Homo sapiens: one gene and its partners. The protein of the gene in region 1 purifies or fractionates together with the protein of each later gene. This does not show direct contact. Each region holds a gene or a part of one and is shown in the gene's direction. Other genes may lie near its edges. The genes, in order: DNM3, SLC26A6 and HSF2.

What was found.
Region 2: the proteins of DNM3 (region 1) and SLC26A6 fractionate together in Homo sapiens (co-fractionation; one large-scale study listed by BioGRID). This does not show direct contact.
Region 3: the proteins of DNM3 (region 1) and HSF2 purify together in Homo sapiens (affinity purification with a luminescence readout; one large-scale study listed by IntAct). This does not show direct contact.

What each region holds. Positions count from the first base shown.
Region 1 is NC_000001.11:172,386,847-172,390,499, forward strand, and holds part of DNM3 (dynamin-3), read left to right. Parts: intron 1-286; coding exon 287-513; intron 514-1,726; coding exon 1,727-1,963; intron 1,964-3,653. UniProt on the Homo sapiens protein: Microtubule-associated force-producing protein involved in producing microtubule bundles and able to bind and hydrolyze GTP. Most probably involved in vesicular trafficking processes, in particular endocytosis.
Region 2 is NC_000003.12:48,628,892-48,632,544, reverse strand, and holds part of SLC26A6 (solute carrier family 26 member 6), read left to right. Parts: intron 1-148; coding exon 149-300; intron 301-452; coding exon of another isoform or gene 453-500; coding exon 501-665; intron 666-743; coding exon 744-896; intron 897-1,238; coding exon 1,239-1,321; intron 1,322-1,404; coding exon 1,405-1,552; intron 1,553-1,824; coding exon 1,825-1,938; intron 1,939-2,029; coding exon 2,030-2,107; intron 2,108-2,387; coding exon 2,388-2,483; intron 2,484-2,566; coding exon 2,567-2,673; intron 2,674-2,833; coding exon 2,834-2,903; intron 2,904-3,653. UniProt on the Homo sapiens protein: Apical membrane anion-exchanger with wide epithelial distribution that plays a role as a component of the pH buffering system for maintaining acid-base homeostasis.
Region 3 is NC_000006.12:122,430,551-122,433,671, forward strand, and holds the end of HSF2 (heat shock factor protein 2), read left to right. Parts: intron 1-879; coding exon 880-964; intron 965-1,374; coding exon 1,375-1,670; 3' UTR 1,671-2,569; downstream 2,570-3,121. UniProt on the Homo sapiens protein: DNA-binding protein that specifically binds heat shock promoter elements (HSE) and activates transcription. In higher eukaryotes, HSF is unable to bind to the HSE unless the cells are heat shocked.

The sequences.
Region 1 (3,653 bases):
CCAGCAGGCCCTGTTCTGGTGATGGCTGGGTTTGGCCTTCTTCTACTCATCTCTATCATCCTTCAGTGTGGACAGCCAAAAGACAGAGGGAAACTGTTACTGTCACCAGTACTGGGGATAGAGACAAAACAAAAGTAAACAGACGCTTGGTGCTTCACTTTTCCCAGGGTGGACTTTGGTGGACTTTGGTGGACTTTGTCCAGACTCTGACTGCCACAGCCATGTTTCTACCTCCACTCAGTCACTCATTTATTCCCATTTTTATTTCTCTGTGGTGATCTGACAGGTTAAAGATTTCATAAATTCCGAGCTCCTAGCACAGTTGTATTCTTCAGAGGACCAAAATACCCTGATGGAGGAATCTGCTGAGCAGGCTCAGCGCCGGGATGAGATGCTTCGAATGTATCAAGCACTGAAAGAAGCCCTTGGGATAATTGGGGACATCAGCACAGCCACCGTGTCCACTCCGGCACCCCCTCCAGTGGATGACTCCTGGATACAGCACTCTCGCAGGTAAGAAGATGGCCCCGGCCGGGTGCGGTGGCTCGCTCCTGTAATCCCAGCACTTTGAGAGGCCGAGGCGGGCGGATCACGAGGTCAGGAGATCGAGACCATCCTGGCGAACATAGTGAAACCCTGTCTCTACTAAAAACATAAAAAAAATTAGCCGGGCGTGGTGGCGGGTGCCTGTAGTCCCAGCTACTCGGGAGGCTGAGGCAGGAGAATGGTGTGAACCCGGGAGGCAGAGCTTGCAGTGAGCCGAGATCGTGCACTGCACTCCAGCCTGGGTGACAGAGCAAGACTCCGTCTCAAAAAAAAAAAAGAAGATGGACCCACCCACAACCCCTGAGCCCTGCCACGCTTGTCCAATATCATTTTCTGAGAGTGCTTTCCTAAACCAAGATGGACCTACAGAAAAAGGGGAAAAGATATTTACATTCAGGAGTAAGGATCAGATTATACTAACTCCCTTAAAAATGCAGCACAGTGCATCCTCACAATGGAATGTTATATAGTCACTAAAAAGAACAAGACAGTTCTATTAAGTCCTAAAATGAAAAGATAATCCAGTTAACGGGAAGCTTTAAAAAAAAGGGAGGTTGTATGCCAGGCGCGGTGGCTCACGCCTGTATTCCCAGCACTTTGGGAGGCCGAGGCAAGCGGATCACCTAAGGTCAGGAGTTTGAGACCAGGCTGGCCAACATAGTGAAACCCTGTCCCTACTAAAAATACAAAAATTAGCTGGGGGTGGTGGCGCACACCTGTGATCCCAGCTACTCGGGAGGCTGAGGCAGGAGAATCGCTTGAATTCAGGAGTCAGAGGTTGCAGTGAGCCGAGATCACGCCACTGCACTCCAGCCTGGGTGACAGAGCGAGACTCCGCCTCAAAGAAAAAAAAAAGGAGGTTGTAGAAGACTGTGTTCTATGGTATACAGAAAAGCAATTTATATATAGAGAGAGAAAATATATACTTATACAAATGTAGAATACAGTTAAAAAGGATGCACAAGAAACTTCTATAGTTGTTTCAACAGAGTGAAGGGGTAGGGAGAGGAAAACTTACTTTTCTCCATTTACCCTTTTATCCCTTTGACTTTCATGACATGAATTGGACTTATTCAGTCAAAAAATAATTTTTAAAAAGCAGGAAGTTACAAAACATTTTTAGAGATTAATTCAGACAGAAAGGAGGAGTGAGCAAACTATGATTTCTCTTTTTCCTCAGGTCACCTCCTCCAAGCCCCACAACCCAAAGGAGGCCAACACTAAGTGCTCCCCTCGCAAGGCCCACATCCGGCCGAGGACCAGCTCCTGCCATTCCCTCTCCTGGCCCCCACTCTGGGGCTCCTCCAGTCCCATTCCGTCCAGGCCCATTACCTCCTTTCCCCAGCAGCAGTGACTCCTTCGGAGCCCCTCCACAAGTTCCATCTAGGCCTACGAGGGCCCCGCCCAGTGTCCCAAGGTAAGGCATGGAGCAGAAATTGGGGGGGTAGTGCGCCTTGGTTCTCTTCTCATAGAATGACAGACAAAATTTATTTGAAAGAGAAAATTGCAAAGATCTTATCGTACGTGTTTGCAGTTTTCACAATGAACAGAGACTATAGGAAAATTGCCAACCCTGTTATGCCATTTAAAAATCACTTGTGATCATTGAAATTTCTCATTTATCAATTGGCACAGACTAAATAGGACTAAAGAACACTCCGTCCCAATGAATGACATTTTGGCAGCTATTGGGAGAATTTGAGGGCTTTGAAACAAAAGAGCTATGGAGGATTGTAGCAAGCTGTGTGTTCTATAGGTCATGAGAGTTCCATGGACTAAAGTCTTGCCTTCTCCATTATCAAAAGAATTCTTGAAAACCACTGACTTAGAGAATTTTATCCATCTGCCTTCTGAACTGTGATCCTTATACTCAATTTTACCAATTTTCATATAGGCTGAATAAATCTGGCTGATTGATCTGCAATTGTTTTTTTAAAAACTACACATAGAAATTTTAATATAGGCATGATTGTTGTATACAGTCACTAATCATATATAAGATAGATCATTGTACATCTGAATAATACGTGTTGACAATTATAAGTGGATTTTCAGGCTTAATTGTGAAACAATATAGCTAATAAATAATGGACCTAGAAACACACATAGTTGGAGCTGTAGTCTCACCTTCATATACTTACAGTCAAAATATACACAATGAATAGAATCAGAGATTTTTAAGGTATAAAGTACTAAGGTTTTTTTCCCCCTCAAAATCAGAAATATAAAGAGGAAAGAAAATTAGCCCATATATAAAGTTAATTTTTAAAAAATTCAATTCAGAGAATTAAAATATTTATATACTCCATGAAGGAATATCTGACTGTATATGAACCATAAAAACAGATGTGACTTCTACCCATCCCTGAAGCCTGAGCCACCTTGCCAACTGATTATGGCACTTACGTTTTATTTTAATCTTCAAGTTGTTAAGCGTAATGAAGAGAAGAGAAGAAGGGGGATCTTAAGCTAGTACACAGAGGGTGGTACAGCAAGAATAGGCAGGAGATTTGCAGTCAGAAGACCTGGGTTACTGAAGGTCTTGGGCAACTCATTTAACTCTGAGACGGGAGTTCTTTATCTATGAAACAGGGAGAACTCAATAAGGTTGTTCCCCAGATCATATGACATGAGGTATTTGAAAGAGTTTGATACACTGTAAAGACTACAGTTGTTACCACTGTTATCATTTTGGTCCTAAGCAAAGAGGATATATACACACTCTCAATCCAATTTTTTTTCTCTAAATTCAATAGACTTGGCTTATAAATTATTTGGAATGGTGCTAAATTTCTAGTAATAGCAGTACTAGCAATAGCCAACATTTATTGTGCCCTCAATATTACTAGGCATTGCCCTAAGAACTTTGTATATACATTTTTGTTTAAAGCTCACAACAAATAGGTTGTTATCCACATTTTACAGATGAGGCAGTGAGGTTAAACAGCTTGCCCAAGGCTGCTCAGCCAGTCCCTAGTGGAGCTGGACTTTAATCCCATGCAGTCTGCTTCCAAAGCCATTTCCTGACCATGACCCCAGGGTTTTTCAGCCTCATCAGTACTGACGTTTTTGTTGTGGAGGGCTGTCCTGTGTATTGTAAGATGTTT
Region 2 (3,653 bases), on another chromosome or scaffold:
AACCGCCAGCACTGTCCCTGTTCATGCAGCCATAATCTGAGTACATTTATCCAGAACTGGAAGTCTCCTGGCCTCTCTCTTAAGACCAGGGCTCCAGGGCAGGGCAGTGTCCTCTCCTCTTCAGACCTGCCCCGTGCCGTCCTTACAGGGACCTTTGCTGTCATGTCTGTGATGGTGGGCAGTGTGACAGAATCCCTGGCCCCGCAGGCCTTGAACGACTCCATGATCAATGAGACAGCCAGAGATGCTGCCCGGGTACAGGTGGCCTCCACACTCAGTGTCCTGGTTGGCCTCTTCCAGGTGTGGAACAGTCAGGAGTATGTGCCCCCCACCACCACTTCTGCTCCCGCCACTGTCCTGTCTGTACTCCCCTGAGTGTCTGACCATCGTCGTCCTCCTCTTGCCGTCTACTCATCCCCCTCCCATCCCACTTGCCCTGCGCTCCTCATTAGCAACCCCAGGACCCCTGCCTCTCCTGACTGCCCCTGGCCGCCCCACAGGTGGGGCTGGGCCTGATCCACTTCGGCTTCGTGGTCACCTACCTGTCAGAACCTCTTGTCCGAGGCTATACCACAGCTGCAGCTGTGCAGGTCTTCGTCTCACAGCTCAAGTATGTGTTTGGCCTCCATCTGAGCAGCCACTCTGGGCCACTGTCCCTCATCTATGTGAGTGAGGGTAGGGGGAGGGAGGGGTAGGTGTGCCCCATGGCCTTGAGTGCTAGCTGTGACCTGGCCTCTCCTCAGACAGTGCTGGAGGTCTGCTGGAAGCTGCCCCAGAGCAAGGTTGGCACCGTGGTCACTGCAGCTGTGGCTGGGGTGGTGCTCGTGGTGGTGAAGCTGTTGAATGACAAGCTGCAGCAGCAGCTGCCCATGCCGATACCCGGGGAGCTGCTCACGGTTCGAGGGCCAGGGAGTGGAGGGCAGGGGAGAAGGGCAGGTCAGGCTGGGTCCTTGCCACGTGGGCAGCCTCCTGTATTTGAGGGCCAGCTGGAGGGGGGCTGGGAGGGTTCTTGGGTATTGTGGGGGGCACAGCAGAAAGCCCCTATGTTGGTTTCTTCCTGCCCCTGACAGCATCTCCCCATAGCCGAAATGGTGTTGCCTGTCTCTCACCCTACGTGACTTTTTCCCACCCTCGAAGAAGGTTTTGCCCAGTATCTCCCTCCTCACCTCACAGTGGTTTATGTGTCCCCCTGACCATGGTGCCAGCACCTGCCTCCCTGACTCTGTCCTCTCCCACAGCTCATCGGGGCCACAGGCATCTCCTATGGCATGGGTCTAAAGCACAGATTTGAGGTAGATGTCGTGGGCAACATCCCTGCAGGGTGAGCTCTGGCCTCCATCAGGTCAGGGAGGGTTGGGCAGCCAGGACAGGACCTTGCTTTGGCCTCACAGATACCTCTCACAGGCTGGTGCCCCCAGTGGCCCCCAACACCCAGCTGTTCTCAAAGCTCGTGGGCAGCGCCTTCACCATCGCTGTGGTTGGGTTTGCCATTGCCATCTCACTGGGGAAGATCTTCGCCCTGAGGCACGGCTACCGGGTGGACAGCAACCAGGTCTGGGTGATGCGGGATGTGTAGGAGGCATCCAAGTGTATGGAGGCGCCAGCAACGGGTGGGGGAGGAACCGGTGGGACACAGGGAGACAGCAGATGTGCTGAGGCCACGTGGGGGACTGAGGGTGGGAGAGCAGGACGTGTGGGACAGCATCCAGTCTCTGGGGGCCACTTGGTGGGGATGGAGATTGGGGATGCACAGGCCTAGATACAGTGGAACAGTGACCAGCCACTTCTAGGAAGTCTTCTCACACCCGTACTGTCCCCCGTCAGGAGCTGGTGGCCCTGGGCCTCAGTAACCTTATCGGAGGCATCTTCCAGTGCTTCCCCGTGAGTTGCTCTATGTCTCGGAGCCTGGTACAGGAGAGCACCGGGGGCAACTCGCAGGTGGGCTTTGGGTGTGGGCATGGGTGTGGGCATGCACATTGCTTTGCCTGGGGAAGGAGGTCTCTCCCCTGCTCACTCCCTCCCCGAACAGGTTGCTGGAGCCATCTCTTCCCTTTTCATCCTCCTCATCATTGTCAAACTTGGGGAACTCTTCCATGACCTGCCCAAGGTGAGCCCCCACCCAGCCAGGTTTCAGGTCTTGGCCAGGCCAGGGCTCTCAAATCAGCCAGTCTAGGTTCAGGCGAGGGGTGGGGACACAAGGTTAGGTTCTGTTTTTCAAGGCTGAGATCTTCAAGGTGAGATTTGGAGACAAGGGTCAGGGGCTGGGTGGGGGTTTGTGTCTGGGGTACTGCCTGAGTGCTTGGGCTTAGTCTGGCTTTGCCTCGGTGAGGAGGGTTGTCAGCATCGGGTGCCCTCAATGGCCCCTGGTGGCACTGTCCCCACCCCAGGCGGTCCTGGCAGCCATCATCATTGTGAACCTGAAGGGCATGCTGAGGCAGCTCAGCGACATGCGCTCCCTCTGGAAGGCCAATCGGGCGGATCTGGTGAGTGCACTGGGAGCCCAGGGCAGGGACTGGGCAGCCCCATGGCTCCTCGCCGCCCTCCAACCGCTGCCCTCTGTTCTCAGCTTATCTGGCTGGTGACCTTCACGGCCACCATCTTGCTGAACCTGGACCTTGGCTTGGTGGTTGCGGTCATCTTCTCCCTGCTGCTCGTGGTGGTCCGGACACAGATGTGAGTCCGCCATGTTGGTCCCCTCATTCCAGCTAGTGAGAGAGTACCACAGGGCTCCCCGCAGCTTTCCCCACATCTCTGGGGACTTCAGGCTCCTTCGGACCCCTCTGTTATCCCCTTTTTCTGCCCCCTCTTCGTGCATTCTCTCTCTCCTTCACAGGCCCCACTACTCTGTCCTGGGGCAGGTGCCAGACACGGATATTTACAGAGATGTGGCAGAGTACTCAGAGGTGAGTGTCAGGGGCTGAGTGAGATGGTGTGGATGGGGAGACGGAGGAAGAATGAGCCTTTGTGGATTCGTTCCACACTTGGCCAGGGAACTGGGGGCTGAGGATACTTTGGCTTTGGTCTTTGGGATTTCAAGGGAGGAGTTTAGGTCTATGACCCCCTCTAGAGGTATGAAGGGACAGAGGGAGAGTGGACAGAGATGGGTCTGGGGCTGGGGAGGGGTCTGTCGTGGAGTCAACAGCACAAGCTCCACCTGCAGAGCAGCCGTGGGTCAGAGAGCCGGAATGGCAGCTCCCTGGGGCGCCAGGTTGGAAGGGAGGCATTTCCTGATCTGATCAGTGGGGTTACTAAGTCCTCAGTCATCCATTTATCTCCTGAGAGGTCTTGGGCCAAGTGCTAGGAACATAGGTGGGGGGCTCTGGAATAAAACAAGGCTGTTGCCTGCAACATGGGCACAGTGCAATTAGGCAGTGCGGGGAGGAATTAAGGGGTCTGAGACATGGGAGAGGATGAGGGGGCAGCCCAGCCCTTACCATGCATGCCTGGAGCCCAGCAGAGACCCGGGCTGTGACCCGAATGGGGTGGGAGCGGGGAAGGTCTGATTGATATGACAGCCTAGGAGGACCTCTGTCTGGGTGCAGAAAACAGAACACAAGGCAGGGGTTGGAAACCCAAGAGAAAGGTTAAGAGCCTGTGAAGCCTGCCTGGGTGGTGGCAGGAGAGGTGGGGAGGGAGAGGCACTGTGGGGGGAT
Region 3 (3,121 bases), on another chromosome or scaffold:
TTTCGTAGTTTTTATTATATCTTGGAGCCCTTATTTTCTCTTAAATCCTAAAACTTACACAGCTTCATTTTATGTTAAATATCAGGGGAATTACTGGAATTAGTTTACAGTTGGTTACACCATATATATTTAGCCAGCATGTAGATCTGGGACTTGCAGATGTCTGGGACTTACAGGAAAAATTAAGAACCTCTGCACCTCAGAGTTTGAACATGAAAGGAGCACTGAAGAAATTAACAATGGTAAAGATATAATTTCCCTACCACAGTCAGATGTGAGGAGAGAAGAAAGTGGTTCAAAGAAGCAATTTAAATGACAGAAAAGAACTGACAGAGCTACAGAAAGGACAAGAAGAAACACCACCTCAACTTTGAGGCTTCTAAATAGTGATAAAGAGTTTTAAGGATGTCATTATGTCATCCTGAGCTACTCTAAATATGTTCACTTATGCTAAATATTCTGTTTATGAGTGAAATGTATAATACATTTTTTAAATCAAAACTACTTAAAATGAATTTAATTGCTTAGTTAATTATCTCTCAATTAACATTTTGAAACCAGTCATCTTTGATTCATTCTGATCTTTTACTCGTGACAAATTCTATCTGTTCTGCTGCTGAAATCCCCCTTCATTTCATACTTAATATAGAACATCTTAATTCAGGTTCTTTGTTTTATCCCCTCAGTGACAGCAATAGTTCCTTAACCAGTCTTGTTATCTCTACTCAGATCTCTCTCTGTAGCCCATTTTCCCTGATGTTTCCCCATCTCATATATTTCAGATAATATACCAGTATTTACATATTGTATCAATTTTTCATTTTTTTCAGAAACATAAAATATGAAACAAGTACTTATATATATATTTTTTTCTTTTAGTCTGAGAATAAAGGATTAGAAACTACCAAGAACAATGTAGTTCAGCCAGTTTCGGAAGAGGGAAGAAAATCTAAATCCAAACCAGGTAGGTATAAATATAGTATTCAGTCTCTGTAGGTTTTTTTAATCCTATGCAGAAACAAGTGCAAGCCGAGGGTAGTCTTAATTGAATATGCTGGCTTTAGTTCTGTGAATAGTGTGTCGAGGTTCTAGTATATAGAGAAAGTTGAATTGGTGAGGTAACAATTCTTTAAGTTTTTTTTTTTTATCCTATTTAACTTTAGGAAACTAAAGACCCCTCATTTCTTAATTGTTGAATAAGAGCTATTGACTTGCACATTTTAAAATTTATTGACATAGTGCATCATGTCATTTCTTGTTTGGCTATATGAGAGTAGTAATTGCCTATGTGTACATCTCTGTTTTCATTTTTTTCCCCTCAGCTTGAACTCAGTATAAGCTGGTGATAAAAGAGTGTTTTTCTGATCTTTATAGATAAGCAGCTTATCCAGTATACCGCCTTTCCACTTCTTGCATTCCTCGATGGGAACCCTGCTTCTTCTGTTGAACAGGCGAGTACAACAGCATCATCAGAAGTTTTGTCCTCTGTAGATAAACCCATAGAAGTTGATGAGCTTCTGGATAGCAGCCTAGACCCAGAACCAACCCAAAGTAAGCTTGTTCGCCTGGAGCCATTGACTGAAGCTGAAGCTAGTGAAGCTACACTGTTTTATTTATGTGAACTTGCTCCTGCACCTCTGGATAGTGATATGCCACTTTTAGATAGCTAAATCCCCAGGAAGTGGACTTTACATGTATATATTCATCAAAATGATGAACTATTTATTTTAAAGTATCATTTGGTACTTTTTTTGTAAATTGCTTTGTTTTGTTTAATCAGATACTGTGGAATAAAAGCACCTTTTGCTTTTCTCACTAACCACACACTCTTGCAGAGCTTTCAGGTGTTACTCAGCTGCATAGTTACGCAGATGTAATGCACATTATTGGCGTATCTTTAAGTTGGATTCAAATGGCCATTTTTCTCCAATTTTGGTAAATTGGATATCTTTTTTTTACAAATACGACCATTAACCTCAGTTAAATTTTTGTTTGTTTTCCTGTTTGATGCTGTCTATTTGCATTGAGTGTAAGTCATTTGAACTAATGGTATAACTCCTAAAGCTTTCTCTGCTCCAGTTATTTTTATTAAATATTTTTCACTTGGCTTATTTTTAAAACTGGGAACATAAAGTGCCTGTATCTTGTAAAACTTCATTTGTTTCTTTTGGTTCAGAGAAGTTCATTTATGTTCAAAGACGTTTATTCATGTTCAACAGGAAAGACAAAGTGTACGTGAATGCTCGCTGTCTGATAGGGTTCCAGCTCCATATATATAGAAAGATCGGGGGTGGGATGGGATGGAGTGAGCCCCATCCAGTTAGTTGGACTAGTTTTAAATAAAGGTTTTCCGGTTTGTGTTTTTTTGAACCATACTGTTTAGTAAAATAAATACAATGAATGTTGAGTACTAGTGTCTGTTATGTGTCTTCTTTAGAGGTGACACTCACATGAAACAATTTTTTCTTCTCATAGGAAGCAGTAGCTTTAAACTGTCTGTGGTTCATTATTCTCAATATGAATCATACCAAGATATTTGTGCCTCATCTCGAAAATATATTGTATATTGCAACAAGGGAGAAATATAATCTCTAAATTTAATGTATTTTAAAGTTCTTTGTTTAAAAATTATACTGGGTTGCTTTCTATGTTTCTAATAAAAAAGTGAGAGAATTATGCCTCTCATTGTCCCAAATAGTGTAAGAATATTATCACTGGATGTCTGGAGAGAAGATAAGAGAAATAGTCAAATCACCTCTTTCCTTTGAAACAGTTGCCCAAGAGAATTATGGAGACTTAATGCAAGGCCAGGGCACTTTATCATGTGAAGAATTTCACCTTTGGGCAAAGGGCTGAAAGCAGTACAATTAATATTGTATAGGGCTATTTAATGAGTTTCAAGGCAGGTTTTCCTATTGGCCATATTCTGTCAGTGTCTTAGAATTTCTTTTATTATGATGTAAAGATTCAAAGTAAGGGCTAGCACAGAAGAATAGGAAAATTCCCTTAGGAGAGTTTTAGTTAGATCCTAAAATACTTGGCTCTGATGGTGGGATCTTGGTGAATTAATTCAAGACCCTACAACAGTGCTCTGCGTGAGCTGAAGAGGTTATGTTTCTAA